2 separate regions of the Homo sapiens genome follow, and region 2 is linked to region 1. The links come from fine-mapping of genetic effects on gene expression. A gene starts in region 1. The other region holds a variant in brackets. All regions are shown on one strand. Distances are between the middles of the regions.

What was found.
Region 2: its variant is fine-mapped to the expression of NET1 in whole blood (TOPMed, PIP 0.98).

What each region holds. Positions count from the first base shown.
Region 1 is chr10:5,407,248-5,423,269 of GRCh38, forward strand. NET1 (neuroepithelial cell transforming 1) reads left to right here and starts at 5,310. Exons shown (of 12, transcript NM_001047160.3): 1 at 5,310-5,573. The coding sequence starts at 5,446. RefSeq lists a silencer at 5,222-5,651 and an enhancer at 13,967-14,136.
Region 2 is chr10:5,556,631-5,572,652 of GRCh38, forward strand. It overlaps LOC105376381 (a long non-coding RNA gene), which reads right to left and starts at 10,251. Exons shown (of 2, transcript XR_001747274.2): 1 at 9,906-10,251; 2 at 6,531-8,675. RefSeq lists silencers at 1,121-1,443, 7,314-7,540 and an enhancer at 4,100-4,601. The variant T/C (reference allele first, on the strand shown) is at 6,889.

The DNA.
Region 1 (16,022 bases):
TAAGAGTAAAATGGAGATTTCTCTGAGGAAGAAATTTCTCCTAAGGATGGCACCTTTAGTTTCAGCTTTAGCTGTTACTCAGGAGTTTCCAGCCTGCCAGTCTGCCAGCCTGCCCTACTGATTCCAGACTTTACAGCCCCACAATCACACTAACTTATTCCTTAAAATAAATCACACACACAATACTGACTCTGACATACTTGGTGGCCACCCTTAGGTTCTGAGGGTGAAAAAATGGCAGAGTGATAAAAGTGTGGTATTTATAGTTACGATGTCCTTGTTCAAAGTTCCTTTCTTGGCCAGGCACAGTGGCTCATGCCTGTAATCGCAGCACTTTGGGAGGCCAAGGTGGGCAGATCACCTGAGGTCAGGAGTTCAAGACCAGCCTGGCCAATGTGGTGAAACCCCATCTCTACTAAAAATACAAAAAATTAGCCGGGTGTGGTGGCAGGCACCTGTAATACCAGCTACTCTGGAGGCTGAAGCAGGAGAATCACTTGAACCCTGGAGGCGGAGGTTACAGTGAACCAAGGTCACGCCATTGCACTCCAGCCTGGGCAACAAGAGCAAAACTCCATCTCAAAAAAAAAAAAAAGTTCCTTTCTTAAGTATTTTTCATTGTGAGCCAGTCAATTCACTGGCCAAGTAATGAGACAAACAAAACCTTCTAAGCATGAAAATTTGTTACAAAAAAAAAAAATTATTCAACTCTGAGCAATAATTCTGATTGACATTCTGACATTTCTGAAGTTCTCTTTGGTAATTCTCTGTTGGCAGCCTCACAACCACAGCCAGATCACTGTCCTTTGCCATTCTCTCTGGCCCCTACCATTGCACTGAAACCCCTTTCTCCTTCCTCCTCTGTTCTCCTCTCCTACTACTAATATAAATCAGTCTTTTAGACCTGCAATGTCTTTAGGAAGATAGTCTAAGCGTTAAGAAAAATGAATTACAGTCTACTTTGGATTAATAGCACCTTCTCTGGCCACACATATTTCATCTCAAATTTTATTGTTCTCTAAGCTCAACAGCTAGATTTTGGAGTTTTCCATTTTCCTCATTGGAATACCTAAGAGTAAACCAATATGGTAAACAAATGATTCATAGATGATTGATTGATTGATTGACTGATTGAGGCAAAAAATGAAACAACCTCCCCCCACATCACACATACACACACAGTGATAGATTTTAAGGGATGACAAACCTGATTTCAAATATTCTGCCCTATTGTGCCTATAAGTACACTTCTGCTTGTCAGAATGACAATCAATGCAGTCCACATACTTAGCTGTTGGACTACACTCCCTTTCATTTGGCAGGAACAATTAAGTTTGACCCAATTAAAAATTACAGTCTAATAAACAGTTTTGTAAATTAATCAATAGTAGATATAGTAAATATATTTTTAAAAATTTCAGACTTTATTATAACATTCTATATATAAATTATATGTATATGCACACATACAGACATTCATTCTCCTGAATGTAATTGCTGTTAGTTCATGAGAAGCTATGAGAAGATTCAGACAAAAAAGAAAAACGTTGATGCAAAGGGCAATTCTCTAGTTATTAAGACTACTAGTTTTCTAATGGTAGGTCATTGTTTGCAAATTTGCTACATTTTTCTATGGGAGCCTACAGACCAAAGGGGAATCATTTAGCTAGTGATAGCAATGGCAAACAAAATATCACATCAAAATCATCAAATAATTTGGAAATTAATAAAGTGTTTTGATGAACACTTTGTACTCTAATATATACATATATATATATATATATATATAAAACTTGGTAAGCAGTTTTGCAAAAATAGTTTGATTTACTTAGATAATGAAAGAAAATAGGTTTTTAAATTATTGATTTACATAATAATTTACATTCATTTATTGATTGTTGAATTTATTTAATATCAACTTGCAAAATGATTGGTGTCATCACATAGGGCTGAAGGTTTTGGAAATAATCTTTGAGGAAGTTCCCCAAAAGAATATTTGTTTTGCAAATCCATGGTTGAAAAAGTTTGGGTTACACTTTGCTCTAGTCAAGTTAGTAGGAATATCTTCTCAGAGAGGGAGTTCTAGAGTCTGATTTTATATATATGAAAGCTGAAATCAAAACAATTTCCTCAAACCCTATCCCGGTGAATATTTTAAGGGAGAAGGATGATTTGTGGGGAACTGAAAGAGAGAGGATTCAGAGAACATTTGTCATGGTTTTGGGACTGTTCTATACAGTGTAAGACATAGAACATGGGGACAATGGCATTCAGACACCAGAAAGTTGATCTCTTGTAAGATCAAGAGATGTCACCAGCCTTTCCCAGGTCTTCAATGACCAACCCTCAGAGCGGTCACTTTTCTTTGCTCTTCTTCTATGGTACCCAGCCATTTTCTGATGAAAATTTGTCTTCTATTCCTTATTTCCCTAATGTCTAGCACAGATCCTGGCATATTATAGCAGGAATTTAATAAATTCTTGTGAATAATTGAACAAAATCATAAGTTCTCAAGTGAATGAAAATTGGAAACAGTTGCTCTGCATAAAACAATAGTATTCAGGTCACTGGAAAGAAGTGCCCACCCCCACCACTGGAATCCCCACATTGACATCCTGCAGTATCTATCATTTTGTGAGTAGTTATTACAAGTTACCAAAGGACTGACCACCTCTGATGACACAATCAAAACCAGTTTCAGGACCTGCAAAGCTGAGGACAGACCCTGAATTCTGAGGATCTCACCGAAGTATGTTGAAACTATTAATATGAAACGGCTGTTTCTGTGGGTAAAAAGACCAAGCGTCAGCGATTCACATGGTCCTATCTTGTGAACAAAAGTTCTCTGAAAAGGAAGTTTGGAGAAAGGAGACTTTATTCTAGTGAACAGTTTGCAAACCAGGGAGACACAGCCTTCGGAGTAAAAGAAAGGTGATTCCAGAGAATAAAGGGGAGGGTTTGGCTTCTATAGAAAAAGTTCTTGTCCAGGTTTCCAATCAGATGTGTTTATGCAAAGGAAAGATTCAGACTTGCTCAGTTCAGATTGGGTAATACAGCTGAACCCTGATTGGATAAAGCAGATGAGTTCTGATCGGTTACATCAGGTGAGCCCTGATTGGTCAATTCGGGTAAATTGTGAAAATCCCAAAGGGGTGTGAGTTTTCTGGACACAGAGTAGTTGTGACCTACTTGGGACCTGACTTGAAGAATTGCTCTTACAGGTTTATTTTTGTTCATAATCTAAACATCTGCATCCTCTGAAGCTCTGTCTTGGTGGAGACCAACTCCCCAAATATTAAGAACATTTCTGTATTCTTACACTCTAACTGCTACAAAGCAGTACTTTCTTCTTTAATTTTTGGGGAGGGATGGGGAAGGTAGAACAGAAGTGGTTCTTGACCAAGGTCAACTTATGTTCAGAGCTGGTTCCTTCCGGTGGGTTCATGGTCTCGCTGACTTCAAGAATGAAGCCATGGACCTTCATGGTGAGTGTTACAGCTCTTAAAGGTGGCACAGACCTAAAGAGTGAGCAGCAGCAAGATTTATTGTAAAGAGTGAAAGAACTAAAGCTTCCACAGTGTGGAAGGGGACCCCAGTGGGTTGCCCTGCTGGCTGGGGTGGCCAGGTTTTATTCCCTTATATGTGCCCTCCCATGTTCCATTTTTGTCCTATCAGAGTGCCCTTTTTTCAATCCTCCCTGTGATTGGCTACTTTTAGGGTCCTGCTGATTGGTGCTTTTTACAGAGCACTGATTGGTGCATTTTACAATCCTCTTGCTAGCTACAGAGCACTGATTGGTGTGTTTTACAATCCTCTTGCCAGACAGAAAAGTTCTCCAAGTCCCCACTCTACCCAGGAAGTCTAGCTGGCTTCACATCTCAATGTTACTCCCTAATTTCTTACTCTTTTTAAAACAAAAACATTTTTCCCTCATGTTATAAAGGTACTGCAAATTCAATATGTCCTTATTTTTAAAAAAATTAAATGCAAAAAATAAAAATAAAAATTTTGAATACCTAAAGTCTACCTAGAGACATTTTAATACATTGACTTTTTAATACATTTAATACATTTTAATACATTATCTTTTTTCTTTGTATAATCTCTTGTAATTCATAACTTTGAATATACTGAATATACCTCTATACTTCATGTTTTTATTTCAAATTACCAGTATACTATTACATACTTCACACTTCATTTTTGTTGGCTGAAAATATTCTTCTCAGTGGATGAGCTATAAATCATTGTTTATTTAGGTTGTTTTAAATGTTTCTATTATAAACAATGTCATTAATAGCTTCATGTTTATATAATTTTATTTTTTAGGATAAATTTCCATAAGTGGAAATATACTGGCAAAAGAGAAGTGTTTTTTTGTTTTTTTTTTTTTGGAGACGGAGTCTCGCTCTGTCACTGGGCTGGAGTGCAGTGGCACGGTCTTGGCTCAATTCAAGCTCCGACTCTCTGGTTCAACTAATTCTCCTGCCTCAGCCTCCTGAGTAGCTGGGATTACAGGCATGCGCCACTCTGCCCAGCTAAGTTTTGTATTTTAGTAGCGACAGGGTTTCACCATGTTGGCCAGGATGGTCTTGATCTCCTGATCTCGTGATCCGCCTGCCTCAGCCTCCCAAAGTGCTGGGATTACAGGCGTGAGCCACAGCGCCCGGTCAGGAGAAGCTATTTTTAAAGACTTTGACACATATAAAGCAATATTTAAAATCAAAGAAAGTGTAATTTGTTTAACAATTTTTTTTTTACTTGAAGCGGTCTTTTATTTTATATTATGTCTTTTGCTGACTTTTACAAGCAAAGGATGAAGTCACTTCATTCTGTTTTGCTAGGGAGAGACTGTGTCATGCTTATTGGAAGACATAAGGGCTCATAATTAGATTTTGCTGGTTCCCTAGAGACAGTCCCGGGAACACACTTGCATAACCTTTGGTAATTGGAAATATATCTCATATTGGCCACGTGCACAATAATTCAGTGTGAATATGGCCAATAAACATGCCTTGTTTACAGGTCATTAGTTTGGACCTCTCTTCTCCTCAAATGCTAAGAAAGATCTGGTGAATTAAAATGCTTCCAGTCCATTTGCCTTGGCCTGTAGTGAAAGTCCTAATGAACAATGAAGGAGGTACCGGGCCTTAGGGACTCAGGGATGCGCTCAGGAGTTAAGGGCAAATTTTCCTAGGTTCTTTCCTAGGCAAGTAGATCCCGGGAGCGGTGGAGGGGCGGGACTCCACGTCTCCTAGGAACCGCTGCGCGCTCACTGATTGGCTGATCGCTGCTCAGCCGCCATTTTCAAATCCCCGGATGACGGCGGTGGCGGCTGCAGTCCGCTGACAGGCGCTTTCTGCCTGGCAGAGGCTGGCGGGCATCGTGCCCGTCCCTGCCGGTCTCCCGGGCACCCGGCCACCGCCCCACCCCCTCCTCCGTGCCATGGAGCCCGAGCTGGCGGCTCAGAAGCAGCCTCGACCGCGGAGGCGAAGCCGCCGGGCCTCTGGGCTCAGCACGGAGGGAGCGACGGGGCCTTCGGCCGACACCTCCGGGTCGGAGCTGGACGGGAGGTGAGTGTGGGGGAGGGGAGGGCCGAACGGGAGGTGAGTGTAGGGGAGCGGAGGGCCGAACGGGAGGTGAGTGTTGGAGAGGCAAGGGCCGGGGGGAGGGGAGGGCTGGCCGGGAGTTGGATGTGGGGGGCGGCGAGTGGGGGTGTTGGTGAGGGCCAGGGGGAGGCGAGGGCCGCTGGGAGGTGAGTGGGGGGTGGGGGAGGTGACCGCGGGGTTGGGGGGGGGGACGGGGGCCGCTGGAAGTGAGGGTGGCACAGGCTGGAGTGACAGTGTGCCTGGCCTTGGACCGAGGTCGGTCCTGAGACCCCAAACTGCGATTTTCCCTGCCTGTGGCAAAGGGGCGGGTTTATTGAGTCTCCTCGCCTCCTGACTGTTTCTCAGGGGAGACTTAGGAAAAACCACAATGGTTTTGTTCTGCACACCCAACTGGCTGTAGGCTGGCGTTCCCAAATGCCTTTGCTCAGACCGAAACTGTCATGGTGAGCACCACGAGAATGGGCTTCCATGTCCTGAGAAAGAAAAGACTAAGGGATAAGTTGACTTCGGGATATGTTATGAGATGCCTATTAGAGAGTTCATCACAACCATTTTCGTGTTTTTTCTTTTTACTTTTTGTGGAAGTATACATTGAAATGAGAGTGTATGACTCGTGTTTGGCTCAGTGAAATTTCACAAAGCGAAGCTCAGGGGATAGCTAGTGAATTAGGAGGAAGGGAACCAAGTGAGAACAGTATCCAGGAGGCCAAATGAAGAAAGAATTTCAAGAAGAGGACGTGGCGAGCTATGTCAGATGTTATTGATAGGTCAAATAAAATGAGGATTAAGTAAAATAAGATGAGGATTAAGCTAGATGAGGAATGAAAATTAAATTTGGTAATGAGAAGAGAGTATTGATCTTAGATGGTTTCCAAGAATGGTTACAATATCGAACTTAGAGTGTTTTGCAACAGGTTGAGAAGAGAATGTGCGATTTGTTCAGAAAATAATGTGAGTGCCAACACTAGGAATATGGAAATGGAAAAATACTCTTGTTACTATTTAAGATTTATAATCTAGTGGGGAAGAAAGATAAGTAGGTTAATAATTATTATAATATGTGATAAAAGTTATTATAGTGATATACACAGAATGCCGTAGATTAAAAGGAACACTTAATCCTGACTGGAGAGAATAGGAAATGATTTCCTATTGTAATCCCTGAGTCTTTAAGGACCAGTTTAGAGAGCAGATGTAAATGGATGATTTCAGGCAGAGAAGCATGTAGAAAGGCCCTGAAGCAAATGAGTCTGATGAGTTCTGGGTATATATTCTATTTTATTACTATATTAACAGTGATATTTGTATAGAGGAGAGGAAACCAATATGGGGAGAAGGAGGAGGTAGTCATGAGAGATGATGCTAAAGAGGTAAGCGCCACATCATGAAGAGACCTTGTATGCCTTGACAGAGTTTGGGTTTTATCTTCATGGTAATGGGGAAATACTGAAAGACTTTAAATGAGCCAATGGCATGACATATTTGCATTTTAAAAGATCAGTTTGCCTTCCATGAGAAAAATAAGCAACATTTTGGAGTCATCTCACTCTTCATATTTTATGAAAACTATTCCCCAAAAATGTGCACATATACATAAACATTTCAGGAGATTTGTGGACCCAGCTGTGTATACCAAATTAAAATTTCCAAGTTTAGCTGATGGATTGGTAGGAAATCAGTCTGCAGTAGTCTAAATGAAAAAATGATTGTTCGAATCTGATAGCTGGCAATGGGATTGGTGAAGAGAAGTTTCACTGCAACAGGAAGACAAGAAAGAATAGAGAGAAATAACACAATTTTGTGGGATAGACTCTTAAGAAAGAATAAATTCCCTTGATGTGCTGTGCTGAGTTAACAAATAGAGGGAGAGGTTGAACAGACAGTAGAGGAGAAAAATGGTTGAACAAGGATCCAAGAAGGCAGAAAAGGACAGAATCCAAATTCAAGGTAGAGGATTTAGCCTAACAAGAAGCTATGGATGATATATAGTTTTGAAGAATGGGGTGTGTTGTGAGCAGGAATTTGAGGACTTTCCCACCAGGCCTCTATTTTTTGTGTGAGGTAGGAAATGATACATTGTGAGAAAAGCGTAGTAACACAGGCAGCATGAGGAGAGTGAGACACAGTTAGAAGAACCATGGAGAGAAAATGGAGAATTAAATAACATATTCCTTTTCCAGAAAAGATGTAAGATCATCTACAAGAATACGTAAAATATTACAAGATAGTATTAATTGTGAGGCAAGAAGCAACTAAGCACTGTATCAGATTCAGAAATCATAAGGAAAAAGATTTGTGTGTATGATTATGTGACTATTGAAAAACGTTCTGCAGGCAAAACTCAGTATAAACTAATTTGAAAGACAAATACGTACAGTACAATTTACCCACTTAAATTGTACTACTTAGAACATTTTCATCACCTCAAAAAGAGCATTTGTACCCTTTAGCTATTGTTCCTCTCCTACCCCTTCTGCCCTAAAACCTAATCTGTCGGTCTGTAGGAATTTCTCTGTTCTGGACATTGCATATGAATGGATTTATGTAATGTGTGTGGCCATTTTTGGTGGGCCATCCTTTGCTCTTTTTTTTTTTTCTTTTGAGACGGAGTCTCAGTCTGTCACCGGGGCTGGAGTACAGTGGCATGATCTCGGCTCACTGCAACCTCCGCCTCCCGGGTTCAAGTGATTCTCCTGCCTCAGCCTACCAAGTAGCTGGAACTACAGGCATGTGTCACCACGTGTGGCTAATTTTTTGTATTTTTAGTAAAGACAGGGTTTCACCATGTTGGCTAGGCTGGTCTTGAACTCCTGACCTTGTGATTTGCCTGCCTCGGCCTCCCAAAGTGCTGGGATTACAGGCGTGAGCCACCGCACCTGGCCCTGTTCATTTTTAAATTTCTTTTTTATTGAGTTGTTAAGAGTTCTTTATTCTGGATACAAGTCCCTTATCAGATAGATTATTTGCAAATATTTTCTCTTATTCTGTGGTTTGTCTTTTCACTTTCATGATGTGCTTCGAAGCACAAAAATGTTTTAGTTTGTAGTCCTACTTGTCTATTTTTGCTTTTGTTGCCTGTGTTTTGGTGTCACATCCAAGAAATCACTGCTAAATCCATTGTTATGAATCCTTTCCCCAGTGCTTTCTTCTGAGAATTTTATCATTTTAGCTTTTATATTTGGGTCTTTAATCCATTTTGAGTTAGTTTTTGTATATAATGTGAGATGACGGTCCAACTTAATTCTTTTTCATGTGTCTATCCAGGTACCCCAGCACCATTTTTTGAAGACTGTTCTTTCTCCCACTGAGTAGTCTTAGCACCCTTGTCAAAAATCAGTTGACCTTAAGCATGAGAGTTTATTTTTAGACTTTGACTTTTATTCTCTTGATCTATATGTAATAGCCCTATGCCATTACCATGGTGTTTTGATTACCGTTGCTTTGTATAGTAAGTTTTGAAATTGGGATATGTGAGTCCTCCTACTTTGTTCTTTTTTTCCCAAGATTGTTGTGGCTATCCTGGGTCTCCTGCAATTCTATGTGAATTTTAGAATCAGCTTAATCGATTTTTACAAAGGAGTCCACAGGGATTCTGATAGAGATTGCATTAAATCTTGTAGATCATTTTCAGGAGTATTGCCCTCTACAGAGAGTTAAGTAGTCTGATCCATGGACAAGGGATGTTTTTCCAATTATTTAGATCTTTAATTATTTTCAACAGTGTTTTGTAGTTTTCAGAGTATAGTTCTGCATGTTTTGCTAAATTTATTCCTAAGTATTTTGTTCTTTTTGATGCAGTTGTAAATGGATTCATTTCTTTTGAAATGGGAAAAGTTCCCTTTTCCCCCTCGCAGGGCGTGCACTGGAGGTGTGCTCGCTTCTTCGGTGCCCTGCTGTTCAAACCTCTAGGGGAACATATAGATAGGCAGGCTGTGGGGCTCCAACCCCATAGCCATGTCTATGGGTGAATGTTTACAGCTGAAGCCTCAGTGGGCTTGTGTTACAGGGTACTCTTAGTTTAGCCATCCGTAGGCGGCTTGTATTCATCAGCTCAGTTAGACCCCTGCCTTATTTCAAGGACAGGGGGCCTTCTGTATCCCAGGGTTCTTGCCTTGATGTACTGGAACAATCAGATGACACGTTGGCTTGGATAATGATTGCAAGCTTTTATAGAGTGGAAGTAGCTCTCAGCAGATGGGGGAGCCAGAAGGGAAATGGTTTTGCCCTGGTGTCAGGTTGCCCGATTCTCCTCCAACCTCCCTGGCCAAGCTCTGCGTCATTCTGCGAATCGATGGCCTGCCAGCTGGCCTGCCAGCGTGCTGGTGTACTCCCACGTCGATGTGTTCCTCTTGACATCCAGCCACCTGTGTGTCTGCCTGCTAGGGTCTCGGGGGGTTTTTATAGGCACAGGTGGGGGCGTGCTTTTATAGGCACAGGATGGGGGTGTGGTGAGCCAGGGTGGTCTTGGGAAATGCAACATTTGGGTAGGAAAACAGAAATGCCTATCCTCACTTAGGTCCGTGGGCCCAGGCCTGGGGATGGAGCCCTAGCAAGGGACCACGCTCTCCTCTACGCAGCACTTCCCTGCCCCGCTTTGTATCACTTTATTTTCAGTTTAATAATTTCAATTGTATAGGAATACATACAATTGATTTTTGTATATCGATCTTGGATCCTGCTACCTTGCTGAGCTCATTAGTTCTAATAGTTTTTTAGTGGTTTCTTTAGGACTTTCTGTGTACAGGGTCATGTCATCAGCAAATAAAAATAGTTTTACTTCTTTTTCCAATCTCTGGATGCCCTTTACTTTTTTCTCTTTCCTAATTGCCCTGGGTAGGGCCTCCTGTACAACGCTGAACAGAAGTGGAGAGACGGGAAATTCTTGTCTTGTTTCTGATCTTAAGGGGAAAGCATACAATCTTTCACCATTAAGTATGATGTTAGTTGTAAGCTTTGTAGATGTCCTTTATCAGGTTGAGGAAGTTCCATTCTGTTACTAGTTTTTGAGTGGTTTTTATCATGAAAGGTTTTAGGGTTTTTTTTCTTTTGTCTATTGAAATGATCATGTGGTTGTTGTTATTACTGATGTGTTACATTAATTGATTTTTTGGGATGTTAAACCAACTTTGCCTTCCTGGTATAAGTCCTGCTTGGTCATTGTGTATAGCTTTTTTAAATATATTGTTGGATCCATTTTGTTAATATTTTGTTGAATATTTTTGTATATATATTCATAAGATATTGATCTGTAGTTTTATTATCTTGTACTATGCTTGTCTGGTTTTGGTATTGGGATAATACTGGCCTCATAAAATCAGTTAAGAAGTATTCCCTACTGTTTTGTTTTTTTTGAAAGAGTTTGTGAAGAATTGGTATTCTTTCAATGTTTGGTAGAATTCAGTGTAAAGCCACCTAGGCCTAGACTTTTCTCTGTGGATAGTTTATTATTATTATTAATTCAATCTCATCTCTTGTTGTAGGTGTCTTCTGATAGTTTGTTTCTTATTAAGTCAGTTTCAGTAGGTTGTATCTCTTTAGGAATTTGTTTCATCAAAGTTATCTAATTTGTTGGTGTACCCTTCCTTGTTCATAGTATTTCTTTATAATCCTTTTCATGTAATGTCAATAGTAATGTCCCCTCTTTTATTTCTGATTCTTGTAATTTGTGTCTTCTTTCTTTTTATGATGATGGTCAATCTAGCTACAGTCTTGTCAATCTTGATCTTTCCAAAGAATGTGATTTTAGCTTCATTAATTTTCTTTGTTCTTCTATTCTTTGTTTTATTTTCACTTTAATCCTTATTGTTTCCTTCTTCCTGCTTAGTAATCTGAGTAATCTGCTCAGATTAGTCTGCATGCTTTAGGTTTAGTTGGCCCTTTTTGTTTCCAGTGTCATGATTATAGATTAAGTTACTGATTTGAGATCTTTTTCTTAATATAGGGATACAGCTATAAATTTCCCTCTGAGCATTGCTTTAGCTGCATCTCATAAATTTTGATATATTGTGTCTTCACTATCATTAATCTCAAATTCTGATTTCTTTTTGACTTCTTTGAGCCATTAGTTATTTAGGAATGAATTGTTTAATTTCCACATAATTGTGACTTTCACAAATTTTTTCTAATTTCATTACATTGCAGCTGGAAAATACACTTTGTATTATGTATTATTTCTATCCTTTTACATTTATTGAGATTGTGCTGTTTTTATATGCACATATGTTTGTAATTGTATCTTCCTGATGGATCAATCTGTTTATCACTATAAAATATCCCTCTTTGGTAACATTTTTTTCTTTGAAAGGCCATTTTGTTTGATGTTAATATAGCTACTCTAGCTTTCTTGTGGCTTGCTGTTTGCATGATACGTGTTTATCCCTTTATTTTCAAGCTGTTTATATCTGTGAAACTAAAGTGTGTCTCCTGTGGACAGCATATAGTTGGATCTTGGTTGGTTGGTTGGTTGGTTGGTTGGTTGGTTGGTTGGTTTTGATCCTGTCTGGCTGTCCATTTCTTTTGATTGGGTTGTTTACTCCAATCACATTTAACGTTATTTATTGATATAGTTGGATTTATGTCTGCCATTTTGTCGTGTTATATATGTCTTTTGTTTCTCTATTCCTCCTTTATTGCTTTCTTTTGCATTAAGTGAGAATTTTCTAATTTATAGCATTTGAATTTCTTTACTGATTTTTTTCATTGACACTGCTTTTACTAGGCTTTTTTGGGTTTTGTATGTGAACTCAGATTACCGTCTGTGGTCACTGGCTTTCAGCCAGAAATTCTTATGGTATTTCTTGTAAGGCAAGTCCGCTACCAACAAATTCTCTGTTTGTTTTTTTTCTTTGTTTTGTTGTTGTTGTTGTTGTTGTTGTTGTTTTTATGGGAATGTCTTTGTTTCTCCTTCATTCTCGAAAGATAATTTTGATAGTATAGGATTCTTTGCTGAAATTTTCTTTTTCTTTGAGCACTTTGAATGTGTTATCACACTGCTTCTGTCTTCCATTGTTTCTGTTAAGAAGTCAGAATCTTTTTGGGGTTCCTTGTAAATAACAAGTGTTTTTTTCTCTTGCTGCTTTTAAGATTTTCTTATCTTTAACTTTTGCCATTTTTACTATGATGTGTCTGTCTGTGGATATCTTTGTGTTATCTTACTTGAAGTTTATTGAGCTTTTTCTGAATGTGTAGGTGGTTGTTTTTCAATAAATTTGGAGAAGCTTCAGCCATTGTTTCTCTGAAGTTTTTTTCTGCTCTTTTCTCTTTTCCTCTCTTTCTGATATTCCCATTATGTGTATTTGAAGGGAAATATAGCAAATAAAACAAAATTTTAATGCAAATATTTAAACCAAGCAGTTCTACCCACAGAAATTTATCTTAAAGTAATGGGCAAGTATACATGGATGTATGTACAAGAAAGTATATCCTAGCACATTTGTGTAGTAGAAAGGTTAGAAAAAACAGGAGGAGGAAGCTAAATACATTATGATATTCTGTACAGTGAGATATTATAATATACAATTTTTATAACTCAGGTGGAATATATTTGGTATGTTGTATAAGATGTATTTGGGATTTTAGGTTGTTTGTTGATACATCTCCTCTATACACCTGTGCAAGTTTCTCTGGGGCAGCAGTTATGTTTTCTATGTAGATATTCCCTACAATATGACAGGCCTCTTAACGTCTTTCTCCTCACCTCCCAGTTCTGGGTAGTAGGCAAAGGTCTTTCTTTTTTATTTTATTTTTTTATTTATTTTTGAGATGGAGTCTTGCTCTGTCGCCAGGCTGGAGTGCAGTGGCGCGATCTCGGCTCACTGTAGCCTCCGACTCCCTGGTTCAAGTGATCCTCCTTCCTCAGCCTCCCGAGTAACTGGGATTACAGGCAAGCGCCACCACGCCCAGCTAATTTTTGTATTTTTAGTAGAGACGGGGTTTCACCATGTTGGCCAGGATGGTTTTGATCTCCTGACCTCGTGAACCGCCCACCTTGACCTCCCAAAGTGCTGGGATTACAAGTATGAGTCACTGTGCCCGGCCAGCAAGGGTCTTTCTAAAGAACCCTAGGTTATACTACATGATTGAGAGCTCAGAACGAGGACTGCTTTTCTGGCCTAGTTTTTTTGATACCAAGTCTGTTCTGGCCTCAGCTTTGATTTACCTAATTATTTTCTGTCTTCTCCTTTGAGAATGTATATTCTTTTAACATTCTTTTAGACTAGAACCCATAGACAAAGAGTAACGTTTAAAGATTTTAGGCATTAAAAGCAGTCAGACTTCCTAGGTTCAAATTCTGGCTCTTAAGGACCTTGGGCAAGTTACTTAGTCTCTAAATCTCACTTCATAGTACCTATGTCTAAGGTCCTGAAAATTGGACACAAGTAATGTTTAAATAATTTTATTTCTGTCTTTCGGGGCCTTAGGGAAAGCCATAGAACTTTACATATCACCCATATGGCAGAAATATAAATACATACTGATCCTTTTAAGGATTTTATATTTTCCTTTTTTGCAGATTTGAAATAATGCTGTCCATTGGTAGAAAAATAATAGTATGACCTATGATCTACCAACAGTGATAAGGCTTACTCTTTGAATTTTGTTTTTCCAGTAAAATTAATTGATGGATTTGTACAGTGGATATCCAGTTAAAGGTATAGCCTTAAATCAATTCTTGACAACCCAGGATCTTTATTATTAGTAGTAGTAGTTGCCAAAAATAAAAGGCATGCTCACAGAAGCTTGTAAGGCCATGTGGTCCCAAATAAGTTGACTATGTTTTTAAATAGTTTATTGAGATATGATTTGTATATCATAACATTCACCCTTTGTAGGTGAACAATTCAGTAATTATCAGTAAATTTATAGAGTTGTGCAGTCATTACCACAATCCATTGTTAGAACATTTCATCACCCCAAATATCCCTGCTCCCACCCCAGCCCTAGGCAGCCACTGATCTGCTTTCTAGCTCTATAAATTTCTATTTTCAGGACATACAAGTGGAATCATACAATGTGTAGTCTTTCTGCTTCTGCCTTCTTTCACTTACATCAGTATTTCATTTTATTGCCAAACCATATTCCATTATATGAATATACTACATTTTGTCAACTCCATTTACCAGCTGTTGTACATTTGATTTGTTTCCAGTTTGGTGCTTTTATGGATAATGCTGCTATGAACATTTGCATGTAAGTCTTAGTGTAGGCTGGGCGCGGTGGCTCACGCCTATAATCCCAGCACTTTGGGAGGCCGAGGCGGGTGGATCACCTGAGGTCAGGAGTTCGAGACCAGCCTGGTCAACATGGCCTGTCTCTACTAAAAATATAAAATTTAGCTGGGCATGGTGGCGTGCCCCTGTAATCCTAGCTACTCGGGAGATTGAGGCAGGAGAATCGCTTGAACCCTGGAGGCGGAGGTTGTAGTGAGCCGAGATCGTACCACTGCACTCCAGCCTGGGTGACAGAGCAAAACTCCGTCTCAAAAAAAAAAAAAGTCTTTGTGTAGACATACGTTTTCACTCCTCTTGGGTAAATTCTTGGGGGTGGAATTATCAGGTCCTACGGTAAACTTACCACTAACATCTTAAGGAATTGCCACACTGTTTCCAAAGAGTACTGGATTGTTAATGATGGAAGCCTTCAGAATTTCTCTTTCCTTCTGTTACTTGCTGTTGTCATTATCCCCTGTTCCCTCTTCCCTGAATTTGCTGCTGTGGGCAAGGCCTGAGAATTAATGCAGGACATTAGGATGTCTGGGGTGCTTTGGGGGTGGTGTTTGCTGGTTTCTAGATGCTCAACTGTGTTCTAGACAAGATATTCCAAGATGTATGTATTAGTTGAGACTCTCATGCAGATGAGAAAACCCTAGTATGATAGGAGACATAGTCTACATGATTGTCAGAAGTGGAAGAAGAGACAACTCCTTAATAGCAAAGATGCTGAACAGCCAAAACAGTAGTGGATGTCTACTACATCAGATATTTGACCCAAATAAATGAATTGTTTCTATAATAATTTAGTTTGTTTTTGCCTGATTTGCAAAGAAATTGAGAACCTCAGTTGCTTGGCACACCCCAAATGTAAAAAGTGTTAACTGCAGAGGATAAATTATACCATTCTTTTTACATGTATGGTATAATTCTTTTTATATGTTTGGCATTTACAGATTACATTTTTTATTTAATTGGAAAAAATGTTATTTTTAGGATAAGAGTATATGTACAGTGCTTGTCACATAGTAGGCACCCAATAAATGATAACATTATCCTTTTTAAAATCTTTTTCTGAAACTCGTTTTCATTCTACATCCATTTTTTATGGTGAATGCATCTTGAGGGTAAATTATGCTTTTAAGAATGCTTTTTTCCTGTTGGTAATAGTAATTTTCAATACGTTTTTTGAAAATATTTATAA
Region 2 (16,022 bases), 150 kb after region 1:
GACGCCGACTCCTTCCATGGTTCTGCCTGTGCCGACGCTGCCAGGAATGCTCCCCAGGGGCTCAGGAGTGAAGCTTCGTGGACTCTATGCCTGGCTTCCTGAGCAGGTACAATTCCGAGCACCTCGGGCTGCTCCTCTCTGGCTCCTGCCACCTTCCTGAGACAAAGGGTCAACCCTCAGCTGACCTCGCAAGGGTGGGAACAAAACCATAAAAGGATAAGACATCTCCTGATTAGAAAGTGATGACTGGGCTCGTGAATGCCAGACCATGTGGGGCTGAGTGACAAGCAAGAGCTTCCTCATCACCAGGGGTCAGGGGTCTCTTGGCCATGGGCAGCAGGCACTCATTCCTTCCACACTGTTCTAGGGGAGAAGAAAATAAAAACCAACGCTCCAAGGAGCTTTTGATTTATTAATAGTTGGGCTGGCAAGAAATAAGGACTTAGAGATTCAAAACTTCGATGGCTTCGAGTCCAGGCCACGCGGCTGTGTGGTCTCTGCTGGAACATCCTTGGTGGCGGAAGCTCTGCGCCTGGTGCTGGAGGAGGCCTGAGGATCAGGAGATCTTCCTCCAGGGAGCCCACTCCTCCACCCCTGTGGCATGCAGCACTCACCCCACAGGCTTCTGCCTGGCTGCCCCCATATGGAAGCTTCCAGGGCAAGCCCAGAGGTTCCCTGCTCCCAGCCCTTGGTCCTGCCACTGCACCCAATAAAACATCCCCATCTCACATGAAAACGGCCCTCTGAGGAACCCGGCGTCTTTCCGGAGGGAGGTTCCTCTCTAACACCGGGGCTTCCCTTGGGGTCTGCTCACCCAGGCTTCTATGTCCTCGGCGTGTCCTGTTTTCTGAGCCCAGGGAATCTGGGGGCACGTCAGATCTCAGTGTTGGGGAGCTGCCGCCAAACAATACATCAAAGCCGGTTTCTTTTCAAAGTAGAGGCTGTCTTATTATAATTCAGGGACAAATTCTAACTAAGTTTCCAGAAGGAGGCCCCGGTGTGGAGGGGCCTGTCTCTCCCTGAGCGCCTGCGTCTCCTGGCTCCACCAGGCCTCTCACCAAATGGTGTTTTGCAGCCTCTTTTCCCTTGGGAGGGTCTGGGAGTGGACAGGGCATGTCTTCCCCTTTCCCCGAGGGAAGGGTAGGAAAGGAGTTGCTCTTTGCCCCCGCATTCCAACTACCAGCCAAGGGAGCAGGTCCTGAGACCCCCCGCTGGGCTGCCTGGCTGAGGGGTATCTGTCCCTGAGGCTGCCAGGAGGCTGTGCGACACGTGGCCGGGAAGCTCAGTGCTCCAGGGAAGAGGCCTGAGAGCAGCGCCCCTGGGGGTCTCTGGGCAGAACCAGGAGAACCGGCCAGCGTCACTCAACAGTGTGCCCTGTGGCATGTCGTGGGGAGCGCAAGGGTCCCCGGAGCTGAGTGGGTGCTGCAGAGGAGCTGGGCTCATCGGGAAGGAGGTGGCCGGGGAGGGGCTGGGCTCATCGGGAAGGAGGTGGCCGGGGAAGGGCTGGGCTCATCGGGAAGGAGGTGGCCAGGGTGACCACGGCAGGAAGATGCAGGAGGCACAGAGAGGCCGGAGGGGTCATCTGCCCATCAGGGAATGCTGTGGTGCTGAGGACCCCGTATGCTGCTGGGGGTGTTCCTCCAGAGAACTCACCATTATGTAAATGCAGCCCCCACCCAAGAAAGCTGGCGCCAGCTTCCCAGGGTGAAGGCAGCACCCGGAACCAGCAGCACCATGTCCCCTCACCCTGTCCTCTTTGCTCTGACCCCCAGAGGAGCCTGGGCGGAGGCAGCAGGGGTTAGTCCAGAAGCTAGAAGGGCAAGCGGTGGGGGCAAGGGCACTGCACAGGGCTGGACGCCACCCCCACGCTGCCTCCTTAGCCATTTGCCCCCACCCCTGACTGCAGCCCCAATCCTCCACCACTGGGGAAGGAGTCGGTGCCCTCGGCCACCTTCCTGGAGGCAAGCTGCTGCCCAGGAGGGAGAGGCGAGGCCACTGTCCCCAGGAAGGAGACTCGGCTGCCTTCACACCCTCAAGCTGTGCCAGGGCACAGGAAGAGCACCCACCTATCTGGCAGGTGCACCTCTAAGGTCGCCTTCCTCTGGAGGGCCCCCGACGTCCCCTCAGAGGGAACAGGCTCTCTGGAGCCCGGGTGGTACTGGGCTGCTCCTGAGTAACTGAGCAGACTCAGGAACCCCAGGTCCTGCCCTTCGTCCAGTTCCCAGTTGCCCTGGACAAAGAGTGAGTGTATCTGACACATCAAAAATCCTCCAAAATATTTACTGAATTTAGTTTAAAACAAGGAGTGCACTGTCTGAGGATAGCTCTGGTGTTCTCAGCATCAATTCTCTCCCAAGTCTTCCTTATAGGGGAGACGTGTCCTTGCAAACACAACTCAGCTTTATGAAAGTACGTGGTTTTTTTGCTTATTTTGTTTTTTGAGGCAGAGTGTCTTGCTCTGTCACCCCAGCTGGAGTGCAATGGTGCGACCTCAGCTCACTGCAGCCTTGACCTCCCCGGCTCAAGTGATCCTCCTGCCTCAGCCTCTTGAGTAGCTGGGACCACAGGCATGCACCACCACACCTACCTAATTTGTGTATTTTTTGTAGAGATGGGGTTTCACCGTGTTGCCCAGGCTGGCCTCAAACTTCTGGGCTCAAGAGATCCTCCTGTCTCGGCCTCCCAAAGTGCTGGGATTACTGGTGTGAGCCACCGCGCTCGGCCGGTACACATTTTATTAAAGGCACAAGCTTTTTTATGGGTCTCCCCCTCTACCCAGAATGCCTTGGTGTGTTGCTTCATAAGTTGAGAATAATATGCTGGCAAATATTTTAGAGTGTAGACCCTCCACGCAGGTATGCACCAATCATTGCCGTCTCTGAATGTTTTATCTCTGATTAAGCAGCGTGGATTTTTTTTACTGTTCCCCAAAATACACACTGCCTCGGGGAGCACCCACTATCGGGGTAGCTGAGGGTAACCTGGACCATACAAATATTTAATCAAACTGCACCTCCTGGGAATTCCTAGTGTGGGTGACGCACCCTCCCTCATAATGAAAATCTTTTACCCCGATCCTGCAGTCACACCTCCTCCCACAGACCTCCACATGCAGGCTTTTTCCTTACCACACACATGCTGTCTGGAGAGGAAGCCAAGAGCCCTTCCAGAGAGGAGACTGTGAAGAAACCGAATGTCTAAATAAAGTCAAATCTTCTCTGTGCACCTTGCAATCATCATTCAAAGAACATTGCACACATACCCTCCTGCTCTATATTAAGTACACCTTCCCTGCTGGCTCAAAACAACCCCGAGGCTTGGGGGTAGGCACGGCCATAAATAAAGCGTGCTTTAAGCTGGCTCTAATTTAACTAGAGTCTTTGGCGAGGGGAAATGCAAAGAATATTTAAACAATGACACACAACCAAAACTAACAGGCAGGCCTCAAAGGGGTTCGTCATTTTTTTTCCATCTAAAATTAAATTTCGTGGGTTTTTTTTTTTGCAGAACTTTGACTCAATTGCTTCAGGTTCTTGTCTGAAACATATTTGAGTCCCTCTCTCTTGTCTCTGTCTCTCTGACTCTCTCTCTGATCTCTCTGAATCTCTGTCTCTGATCTCACTAACTCTTTCTGTCTCTGTCTCTGTCTCTCTGTCTCTCTGATCTCTCTTTCTGACTCTCTGTGTGTATGTGTCTCTCTCTCTTTCCCAGACCTCCGCCCCCCACAGTTTTATCTCCAGACAGTGTGTGTGAGACAGGAAAGGGTCAGCGTGGGGGGATGGGGAGTGCCTGAAAGATCTAGGAGTGATGGGTTGACATTGTTCAGAGATTAGAGATTATTGGAAATAAGTTGGAAATGCTCTTCTGAGAGCTTTGGACTTCTTGAAAGAAATATATTCTATTTTGTTTAAAACAGCCTTGCGATCAACCAGTCAATCCATAGCTGCTTGTTGAGAACAGCGGGAAAACGGAAACATGATATTGGCGCTCAGAGAGCTTGGCTGGAGCTCCAGAGACCAGGGAAAATCTTCAGTGGCCAAAAGCACAACACGACACCTTACGGTGAGGCACGGACCGGACCAGACAACATCCATCTTCCTTTCCTCAAATCTGAGACAGTCCCAGAAGGGTGGGACCCAGAGAGGGGCAGATACAGGCCACACTCTACAGCCAGCAGTCAACACACCCATCCCCCAGAGGATGGTCCTGGGCCCAGACCTGGCAGAGAATGCAGGGAGACCCTCCGGGAGGGGCTCGCCCAGGGCCAGGGACCCAGTCGTCTGGAGACAGTCAGATGAAGCCTGCACGGGTTGACTTCTCTCTGTCATTCAGCTGTGCGTTTGGGGGCACCTGCTGGTATATGGCAGTGTGCACCATGGAGGGTGTGAAAATGAACTCAGAGTTTGCGCCTCAGGTTCCCAGAGGACTTTGCTCATGTCCCATACGGCCACTCACCCTGCATCCTATGTGTTTACAGAATTCTCCAACCCAGCATTCAGATCCAACTACATCTCCTGAGCCCCCAGCCCAGGCCCTGGCCCATGCCAGGCATGCAGGGGCTGGATGAATAAGACAGAGTCCAAGCCTGCAGGACTAAAGGCCCTGCCCAAGGGTAACACAGGCCCTCGAAGCCATGGCGTCCAGCAATAGGACAGTGTCACCCACTAGTTGGGGAGCCACAGGACCTCTGGAGGGGTGAGGGTGCCCGGAGGGTGCATGAGATGCTTCGGAGGGAAAGTGACTTCCCAGGAAGCCCTTGGACAAGGCTGGGAGCCTCCACTGCAGAGAGGGGAGGAAGAGGGTCCCAGGTGAGGAGAAATGAATGTAAAGGGCTCCGGAGCAATGGGGACAGGCGGCCACGCAGCGCTGGAGCAAGACGTGCACGGAGGAGCCAGGAGGTGACGGGAAGGGCCCTGGAGCAGGTGCCAAGGAGGCCGGACGCCCTGTGGGCCGTGTCCCTCCTGCCCTGTGCTGCGGTCCTCACACCACCAGTGACCACAGCAGGAGTAACGACGCCCAGCTTCACTGTGGGCCGGGCGCGGGACAGGCGTTGCTTTGAGCCTTTTTCTGGAATTGATCCTTTAATCCTCACAAACGCTCTGTGGGGAGATCCCTCTATTTTACAGATGAGGAAACCCAGTCTCAGAAAGGCTGAGCTGGCATCCCAAAGTTGAGGAGCCCAAGATGGCAGAGTGACTCCAAGCCCTGCCCCTCTCCTTGCGTCCCCCCACCCCCGTCCTCCTCTCCTGGTGTTACCCTCCAGGTCCCCTTCGCCTGGCATTCCCCCTACAGGTCTCCACCTCCTGGTGTCCCACTCAGGTGCACTCTCCTGGTATCCTCCCAGGTACCCCTCTCCTGGTAAAACCCAGGTCCCCCTCTCCTGGTGTCCCCCGCCATCCTCCTCTCCTGGTATACCCCCAGATCCCCCTCTCCTGGTATCTCCCCCCAGATCCCCCTCTCCTGGTGTCCCCCTCCAGACCCTCCTCTCCTGGTGCCCCTCCCGTCCACAGGCACTGCAGGCAACCCCTCCACTCCCGACCATGGCTCCAGCCCTCCCACTGGCTATACCTCCACACTGGGCCCATTGCACAGCTAGCTCTCGGGTTGGACAGACATCTGATGGCCACATCCCTGTGGAGGGAAGTGTCTCTAAAGGACACACGGTCCCTGAGGGATGTCTTGTGGTGTTCTGTTGTCAGACCACCAGGTCCCACCAGCAGCCATGCCTGTATCTCTTTATCCTCTTGGTCCTGACCCCTTTGTTCTGGTCTGAACATGGCCACTGCTCCTGGAGCCCCAGTGAGGGGAACCAGAGACCACGGCCACTGTCTCCCAGGGTTCCCAAAACCCAAACAATGGGGGCCGCCTTGGTGTGCGTGAGCCCTCCCTCCTCCTCCCTCAGAGTCTCACAAGTCCTCCACAAAGCAGCTGCTTCTGCCTCACAGAACCATTTATGGGGCCAGTTACTGGACTGCTACCTATGACCTTCCATCTCCACCCCAGAACCGAAGCACAAAACTCCCACCTCATTGCTCCCTGACCCAGACGAAAATTCCTCCCCTCTCAGCCAGAGAGGAGTGAGTGAGGGTATCTGAGGCTCTGTCTCGGTTTAGCCTCAAACAAAGGAACTGTCTCTGTGCAATTATTCAATATGAATTGTCAATGTCTATTTCCCCCGTTGTCTTCTTTTCAAACTTTACTAGGCATAGTCATAGAAACTTAAATTTCCTCCCTACCTAGCAATTCTAATAAAAAGCTTTGGTCAGTTATACACTGAAATTTTTAAGGCTGGAATGGTGGGTCATCTAGATTTGCCAAGAAACAGCATGGGGGATTATGGGGAATATTGATAAAATAAGGTTAATTAGGAATTGAAAGCTGTTGATGATAGTGTACACAGAAGCTTATCGCCATATTCTGTTTGCCATTATGAATGCGCAAAATCTTCCAGCAAAATGTGGATGAGAAATAAATAAATAAAGTAAGAATGCTGTTGGGGCGAGAGGCTCCAATGCATGGCAGCACCACCGTTTGGGGGTTCTCTCTTTATTTCATTTCTCCACGTGATCTCTGGCACCCTAGTAACCAAGATTTGGCTGGCTGTGTGTTCCTAATCCAACAAAACCAGCCAGAGCTGGAATTGAAGTCTTCGAGGTGGAGTGAACCCCAGTGAGCCCACCCCAGGGCTGCCCCCCCAGGTCCGCCTCACAGACCCACTTCTGCAGCCCCCCGTCAGGTCCCCCTCACAGACCCACTTCTGCAGCCCCCTGTCCAAGTCGCTGCCCCAGGTCTGGACACGGGCTGGAGGGTCATCGTGGTAGTTGCCTCTGAGTCAGCAAAACGCTGCTGTCACCTGTGAGGTCTGCAGTGCGTCTCAGAGGAGTGAGG[T/C]CCTGGAGGGGTCCTGCCAAGCCGAGATGCCGGAAATGGGGAGCTGCCGGGGAGGGGAGATGGGAGGTTGGAAAACGGTGTCATGGGAGTTCTCTCCTGGGCCTTTAAAGTGCCCATTCTCAGACAGAGGAGTCCAGAGGGACGTCTGGAAGCTTGGTTTGGAAGAAATTCCAGACTTCCCTGGGCAGCCAAGGCATTCTCTAGCTTTCTACGATCCAGGCCTGGCCCCTGCCTCATAAATCTCGCAGGAAGCGCTCTCAGGAAGGACGCTACTGGCCTGGGGCAGCCTCGGAGTTGAATGAAGATGGTTTGACTCTGAGAATGACTGGCCCCAGCCAGATTCCCCGTGGGGCAGCCCGTCTGTTTGGAAGTCTCCTTCCCCGCCGGGCCTGCACACCCACCCCTCCTGCCACATCAGCCCCAATATCTCTGCATTGAGCCCAGTGGGCACCTTCCCTTCCGTTGCTCAGAGAGCTTCAGAGACAGACCCTTACTCCTGCATTGATGTCCATCCAAGGGACGGGGCTCAGGCTGTCCCTTCCAGCTCACGAAATAGGTGCAGAGCCAGGCAGAGCAGCCCAAGTGTGACTCACACCCCGCCAGGTCCCGTGGGCACTTTCTCAGCAGGGTTGTGGGGGCAGCAACTCCATCCACTTTCCTCTGTCCCCTCACCCGCCCACCACTGCCCACGGCCAGAGTCACTGGAGCAGCCTCCATTCCGTCCCTGCACGGCAGTCACCATGATCTCTCCAAACCACAAGTCAGGGTGTTGCCTCTGCTTACAAGCCTTTGGTGACTGCCTGCCGTCTCAGACATGCTCAGCAGCAGTCACACTCACCGCCCCGTCATGCCTGTCTCTCACCGTCCTCCCGGCTCGCTCTCCTCTCACCAGGCTTAACGGCCACACTTCCTGGGGCACTTCTGTGACCCCAGGGCCCGGCTGGTGCCCTTCCACGGTGGTGCTTCACCACCTTGCAATTGCTGGTTTACATCCCTGATCACCCAGACTAAACGTGAAGGGCCAGGACTGTGCTGAAAGTCCTGAAACCCAGAGATGAGAGCTCAGCTCAGACCGCACGTGATGCCTCGGTGTGGACATGTGCCCAGCTGAGCGTGCAAGCCCCTAATGGCCGCTCAGCAATGCTTGTGTTTTCTCCCTTGAAACTCTGGAGCAACTGCAGCCAAACATCCTCTGCTCACTCTGTTTGTATCTCTGTCCTCTAAATCAGCCCTCTGACTTCCTCCCCGCCTGCGATGAGACTGTGAAGGAATAACAACATCCGGAGGAGATTGTGCCCCAACTTGGCTGTCGAAGGGGCCTCATCAGCCACCTTCATGGCCCAGACGGTCAAAGGCTGACCCCACAGAGTAAGGCTGGCCCTAGGAAGAGTGGGTGCTGGGCAAGGTCCACCGTGTGCCGCAAGATCCCCCATTTAATGCAAACAACATCTCAATGAAAGATAGCATCAAAGACGGCAGTCTGAAGCCCAGGGAAGGGCGTGGACTTTGAAGTTGGGCAGGTTTGAGTTTAAGTGTTGTTTTGCCACTTCTGCTGTCTGTACCATCTTGGCAATCTGTAAAATGCATATAACACCTCGTGTGTTAGGGTGGGTCCTTGCTGCAATAACAAACAACCCCAGATCTCAGTAACTGCGTGCAATGAAACACCTGCTTCTCCCTCACACGAAGCCGAATGTGATGGTTTCTAGTTACATGGTTCTCTTGGGTGGGCTTCTCCCAGGCCGCAGCTCCACTGAGCTCCATAGTCCCCCGCTGGATCTCCTGCCCTAAAGTGGTCAACAGATGAAGAGAGACGGTGTGAGTATTGGGCAGGAGGTTTCTGGGGCAGCCTGGAGGTGGTGTCCTCCAGCATCACTCCCAGGGGCCCCGGCTGCAAGCAGGACATGCTGAAGCTGCAGTGTTCTGGGAAAGACATAGCCCCGCTTCTGCCACACCTGCCTGGCAGAATTGTCATGTTTTAGGGGACGGCTCGTAAAATGGCTTAACAGGCTCTTGGCCCAGGGACTGCTAGAATAGTGAGTTTCCTTCTTCTCTTCGCCTTTGGTGATGTTGGGGCTGGAAGATTTCTAGAATGAGCTGTGTCTGTAAAGAAGCCTCAAGTCTTTTTTTTTAAGCACCCGCGGATGAGGCTTTTTGAGGCACTAGCCGGGCATCAGAGGCCCAGGGAAGTTCAAGGGTTCACCCTGATTGGCCTGAACATCTGGGAAGTTCTGGGCTGAGCACGATGACAAATGTGCCTCCCACCCCCACCATCCACACTCATCTACCCACACACACGGGTTCTGTCCTGCCCCGAAGGAAGATGGTTTCAGGATGACTGGATTTCTGAATTTCCTCCGTGCAGATTAAGGAGGCTTAAGAAGCCCGCCTGTTGGGAGGAAGCCTCCGACCGGAGCTGCTCTGGCTGGGAAGGGGTGGCTCAGGGTGGTGCCTGCTGTTCAGCCAGGCTCCCCGAGGCAGGTGGGATGAGACACCTGGGTGGGGCGGGCAGAAGCTCAGAGTCTGCACGGTGCCAGGGAGGATGATGAGGGCGAGGATGGATGAGCCCACAGGGGTGCATACTCCACCTCCCGAAAACACAAGGAGCTCAGCGGCTGCACACACAGGCAGCACAGAAAAGAACAATGGGGCAACTCGAGGGCGTTCTGAGGGTACCTCTTGCCTACATCACCTGGTTTTAGTCATCTCCCACGTGCCTGCCTTCAGGCTGATGGACTTCTGTGAGATCCCTGGGTTGCTGGCTTTGAAAGCCACTGGGTACCGACCACCCACATCTTGGCAGGGGAGCTCCCATTGCTAACATTGCTTCATAAAGTGCCACTGGAGAACAGCTGTTGAGTGGTGACCAGCCCCCAAGGAGTCAACCGCCTTTCCCACCCCCAACTCACCAGAGTCCCATGAGGACACCCCACACTCAAACCCAATCTGGACAAAACTGTCAAGGACCCTAACCCAGGCGTGCCCCCCACCTTCTCATCCAGCTCCCTTTGACTCACTTGGGTGGTCGCAGCCGCCGGCTGTGATTTCTGGCCCATGCCTAGTTATTTTAAAGGCCAAATTTTCACAGCCATGCAACAGGCCCTTATCTCCAGGCCTTCAGATGCTCCCATGTGGCTTGTTTGATTCTCCTTCATATCAGCCCTCTCTCAAGACTCAAATTTCATTTCAAACCAAATTTCTCTTTTCTCCATTCTGTTGACTGGGCATCACCATGGCAACCCCCACCCCCATTGCAAACATCCTCTGAGGAACGGGCCCACATGCAGGGGCTTGAACCTGTCATCGCTGTGAGTCAAGGTGAGATGAGCTCACTTCCCTTGATCAGCCATGAGTACTGAGTGCAGCTTCAATTTGTGTCTTTGTCACTAGGACAACTCTGTGACTAGTGTGCTTCGGTTAGGGCAAAAAGTCCTTCTCCAGGAGAAAGAAGTAAGTAAGTTACCTGCCTTTACAGACAGTTGGTCCAATGGATAAAACAGGGGCTGCCAGAGAACCCTACAGAACAAAAAACCTATCATGCAAGATTATTACATATCTATCTTTTTTTCTCAGAAAAAGGCTGGGTGCTGTGGCTCACACCATAATCCCAGCACTTTGGGAGGCCGAGATGGGTGGATCACCTGAGGTCAGGAGTTCGAGACCAGCCTGGCCAACGTGGTGAAACCCTGTCTCCACTAAAAATGCAAAAATTAGCTGGGTATGATGGCATGTGCCTGTAATCCCAGCTACTCAGGAGGCTGAAGCAGAATTGTTTGAACCAGGGAGACGGAGGTTGCAGTGGGCCTAGAATGCGCCACTCTACTCCAGCCTGGGTGACACAGCCAGACCCGTCTCAAACAAACAAACAAACAAACGAACAAAAACCTACTAAATACCACCTATAACAAAAATGAATTTGAAGATTTCTCACAAACTCATGGTCACAAGCTTCTTTGGTAGTTGATTTTGTTGAAACAAAAGCTGACCATAAATCCACAGAAGACAATTATGAAGGAAAGCCACCCCACAAGCTTTGCTACATCCAGTGAAAAACACGTGCTGCACACATGAGTCTCCAGGATATGAACAAAATGTTTACGAGCCAAAAATTATGAAGAAGGTATTGATCTCAATACATTTTATTAGCATCCAAATAGCCATCCACAAATATTTGCTCAGTGATAAGGAGGAATGCTACCTTGTTCAACATCTATATTCTAGAAGTTAATCATTTTCAAAGAATCAGCTCATTAACTAATAAATAACAATGTTGTCTTCCACCATAGTTTAAGGCAATACCCCTTCTTTTCCTATCCATCTGCATGGTTTGTTTTGTTTTATGATGTGAATGTTATATATTTTATCAATATATGGACTTCTTAATGAGCCTGAAGACAAAAACCACATCCTTGCTGTGGCTATAGGAGGCGATATCTCTCCGAAGGTCACATGGGATCATTTCTGATGAATACACCAGGTATAAGGAGGTGTGTCTCTCAGACCTACAACAATCTAAGGAGGAATGCCCTAAACCTTGGTTCAAGGGATGATTTCATGCTTGTATACATACACAAAAGTCCATCAAACTGTATAGATTTGTGCACTTTATTATATCTTGGCCTTATTTTTAAAAACAGAATAAAATTATCAGTGAACCTCAGAGAGGGTCTCAGTTTCTCTTGCTTTTGACCACAAAAGTGTCAAATTCCTCCCAAATTATGGAGAGAAGCTAGAAGGGAGAACAACTAGGGGCTCAGGCAACACGGTTGTGAACTGTAGTTAACGTTTAAGGGCCGGGAGATCTGTATCTAAGCAAATCATCAGTAAATGCCAGCTTATCTCAGACTTTGTAAACTAATTTGTTTTATGCTTCCTGAATTCTCATTTATTCTCCTTCATTCTCAGTATTAGACAAAGTACAGTCAATGCTTGTCATTCTCAGTACTTCTGTTCTCTAAAGTCACCAAGAACAGTGAATTAGCAAATACAGTCAGCTCTCCGAATCCATGGATTCCAAAACCTCAGATTCAACCAACCCTGGATTGATAATGTAATTAGGCCTATGATGGTTACATCTGTACTAAACATGTCTATTTTACTTCTTGCCATTATTCCCTAAACAATATAGTATAACAACTATTTACATGGTATTTACATTGTATTAGGTGTTATAAGTAATCTAGAAATGATTTAAAGTATACAGGAGGGTGTGCATAGATTATATGCAAACACTATGCCATTTTATATCAGGGCCTTGCATATCTTTGGATTCTCGTATCCGCAGATGGTCCTGGAACAAATCCCCCAAGGATACCAAGAGACAATTATGCTGAACCATTGTTCCCAGGAGAAATATGGGGTATGTTCCTACCAGCCCTGACCATAGCATTTTTGTCAACCAATCCATATATAACTTTGTTTTATGTATGTTTCTGTTTAAAGGCACCTTATTTAATATAAAGTGTTGATTCATTGGTGGGTAAGTAGTTGGTTGGTTAGCGGGTGGTTTGTTGGCTGACTGGTTGGTGGGTAAGTGGTTTTTGGTTGGTTGGTTAGTTGGTGGTTGGTTGGTGCTTGACTGGTTGGTTGGTGATTGGCTAATTGGTTGGTTGGTGGTTGATTAGTTGGTTGGTTGGTAGGTGGGTGAGTGGTTGGTTGGTTGGTTGGTAGGTGGGTGAGTGGTTGGTTGGTTTGTTGGTAGGTAGGTGAGTGCTTGGTTGGCTGGTTGGTGGTTGATTGCTTGGATGGTTAGTGGTTTATAGGCAGTTGGTGATTTGTTGGTTGGCTGGTGGGTGGGTGAGTGAATGAGTGTGTGGTTGGTGTGTGGTTGGTTCGTTGATTGGTTGTTGGCTGGTTGAATGAATTAATAAATTTTGCTCTCAAAAGCTCATAGTCCCCCCCAAATCCCTTCTCCATCTGTCATAAAGTCTGATATTTCTAAAGTTAAGATCCTCGATTAAAAAGCATCATGGAAATGTAAATATTTAAACTGGATCACAGAACTATCTTTCCTGGGAGGTGAGAACTCACTAATGAGTTAATGAATGGCACAGGATTCATTTCTCCAGTCATTTTTCCCTTATGATTCCATGACACCCGTGGAAAGAATGGGCACAAGGTAGGTATGTGTCTATGGAAAAGAGGGAAGAAGTAAGAAAACATCTGGAGTAAGACTTTCCTCTCTAGTCCTAGAAAAAACCATTGTGATGCCAGGAAAAAAAATTATCTTCTCTCAAAAGAGTGTGTTTACCTTTAGACAACAGCTATCTGTTGTAAAGGCTCATCAGTCCCTCAGTGTGTCACTGTGATCACAAATCTCCAGGAAAGGAAGATTTTGCAGGCAAAGTTTCTGGGAAACATTTCACAAGAGAACGGCAGCCCAGCAAAATGTGCATTTGGGGAGCCTGGCTTGGGACATGCATCTTACAGCCTGGTTTGCTGCCAGGATCCCCCAGGACACTCTCAAAAAAACAGATCTCTAGGCTCCCCCGAAACCTTTGGAAATATTCTTGAGGGACCAAACAAGAAGCAGATACTTCCGAGAAGCCCACCAGGTGAATCTGACGATGAGCCCAGGTGTGGAATCTCAGGCAAGGCCTGGTGGAAAATCCGTGGTCTGCGAGGAGAGCTGCCTGGGAACCCGGCACGACGGGGAGACACTTGAAGGAGGGGCACATGCGCCAGAGGTGAAGCTTTGCCCTCTCCAGCACAGAGTGGGCCGTGAGCTGTCCGCCACAAAGGCGGAGAGATGAGGTAAGAGGGAGGCTGCATTGTTTTGATGTCCAGGCACAGACTTGGCATCCACCAGCCCAGGCAGCGCCACAGCCAGGCTGGCTCTGGAGGAAAGGGTGGGCCATGGCTTTGAAGCCAGGCAGGCACACTTCCTCCAGGGCCCGGGTCTGCATGCAGGGGCACGAGACTCAGAAGCCAGCTCGCCCATCTGTTTCCGTTACATGCAGATGGGGCAGAGGGCGGAGGGCGCAGGGCTGGATGGGGACCAGACTGTGAAGCCTTCGGGGACTGCGTCCAGCTGCATCACAGGTCTCATCTGGCCCAAGGAGGCCGGTGGGGCGGTGTCAGGGAAGCCCAGTGTCCAGGGCTTTGAGTGCTAATTCTTCTTCCTGGACATCGGTCCCCCTCCTCACTAGCTGGAGGCAGGGTCCCTGCCTTGCTTTTGCAGGCACCCAGTGCCTGTCGTCAAGCCTGGCCTACAATAAGTATGTGGTAAACATTCATTAAGTTGAACTGAATGCTCCTTTCAGTGAGAAGATGAGCTCTTCCATCTCTCTCATTAGACAGAGGTCCCCATCAAGGGGTTCACATCAACTGGTTGTTAACAAAAAGAGGGACCCTGGCCCAGCCAGCACCTGCACACAGGAAGCATTCAGTGATGCTGGCTTTGTTGATTTGCAATGACCATCTGCAAAACTCTCTTCCCTTTATCCGGGTGTGGGTTTGGTTCCTGTGTATCCAGATGAACGTAATTGCCATCATCGATACCAGATACCCAACCATGACCCCTTCTTTTCCCCTTTTTTCAACTTCTACTCTAAGTGTAAACAAGTTAAATGATTTGGGGTTGTTTTGCCCTCATCTGATTCAAAAAGAGGTGATGAAGCATCTCGGTTCTACCAGCTGTGTGATCACAGAAAAATTGCTCAACCTCTCTGAGTGCCAGTTTTCTCAACTGCTAAATGGATTTACAAAACCCACCTCGCAGAGTAATTAGAAGGATTCGTGTACCTAATGCACTGGAACAGAGGCGGTGGTTGATATCTAGAAACTAGTATTATAATATTCTCCATCCTGGGACAGTCTAGCCCTAGGGACTGGATCCCAAGATCATGGTGTCCCAGAGAACTTTGACCTTCACAGCTGCAAACAGATGGAGGGACAGGGCTCAGAGGTTCAGCAGGTCCCTTCTGTTCATAGAACCCATTGCTTTGTAAACAAAGTCCTATCTATTCATAGCGACAGAGTTTGAACCTCCTTGCATTTTTGTTCATGCATTTACACAAATGTGTGTTTTATGCCTTGTTTACAAGTGTGAGTGGTGTGCTTACTGGGTGGGGACCCGCACACTCCAGGCTTGGACACTCAAACAAAGAGCTTCCCAGGCCCAGCGCCAGGCCCCTACAGGAGCCCAGGTCCTTATCCTCGGGGACCCTGCGTTCCTGATCACAGCCTTTGTTCTCTGGACCTGAGATCAAAGGTCCAGAGGAGGTAGTTTGCTGGCAGCCAAAACTCGTTGGATGGTGGAGTCAGACGGAAGGGTTCTTGGATCAAGGTTCATCCCATGGACCATCTACTCACTAAGGTGAATGGAAGCAAAATTTATCAATACTTTTTATAAGTTGATGCAAGTTTATGGATATTTATTAACACAATGTACTGAATGCTTACTACATCTGGGATTTGCAGGGCAGAGGAAGACCAACCCTAGCTCTGGCCATAATTGGGGCCCGAGCTCTCAAAGCCCACAGGTCCAGGTGCAAAGGACAGAGATTCTCCACATGGGCGCCTCCTGGGGCCGGTACAGCTCCTCACACCTGGCCCCACACCTTGGGCCCAGCCCAGGGGCATCAGTGGGCAACTCATTCTCTTTAGAATTCTTGCAGCTGGATAAATGCAGCCTGGACAGTCGATTCATGGTTATCGAATGGGGGACAACCATGGATCTTAAAAGTGATTTCGTTGATGGGTTTTCTTCCCCCTTTGGGCTGTAGGTTTGGTCCGGGCTGGCCGGGAACAGAGCCGTTTAACACCGCGCTTATGCACCATTAGGGGCTTGGATGTGTTTGCTCCTGATCCAGGTCAGAGATTCCCAACTTTCTCTTCTGAGGAGCTGCTCTTATCTATCCTGAAATTTGGTTTTAGCCATGGAAGAGGTTTCTCAGAGCACAACCAGTAGGCTCCGTACCAGCTTCTTCCCCCGAGAATATTTGTCAGCAGTCAGGAGGAAGGCATGACAGCAGGACCTTCTTAGAGGGCGACAGCCAGGTGGCACAGTGGCCAGCACCACTCAGGGCAGCTGGCGCCCCATCCTCCAGGAGCTGGAGCTGTTGCAGAAGGGTCTGGGTCACTCCTGCCCCTCCAGGAGGCAGAACCCCAAGAGTCCATCCCTAGGCTTGGAG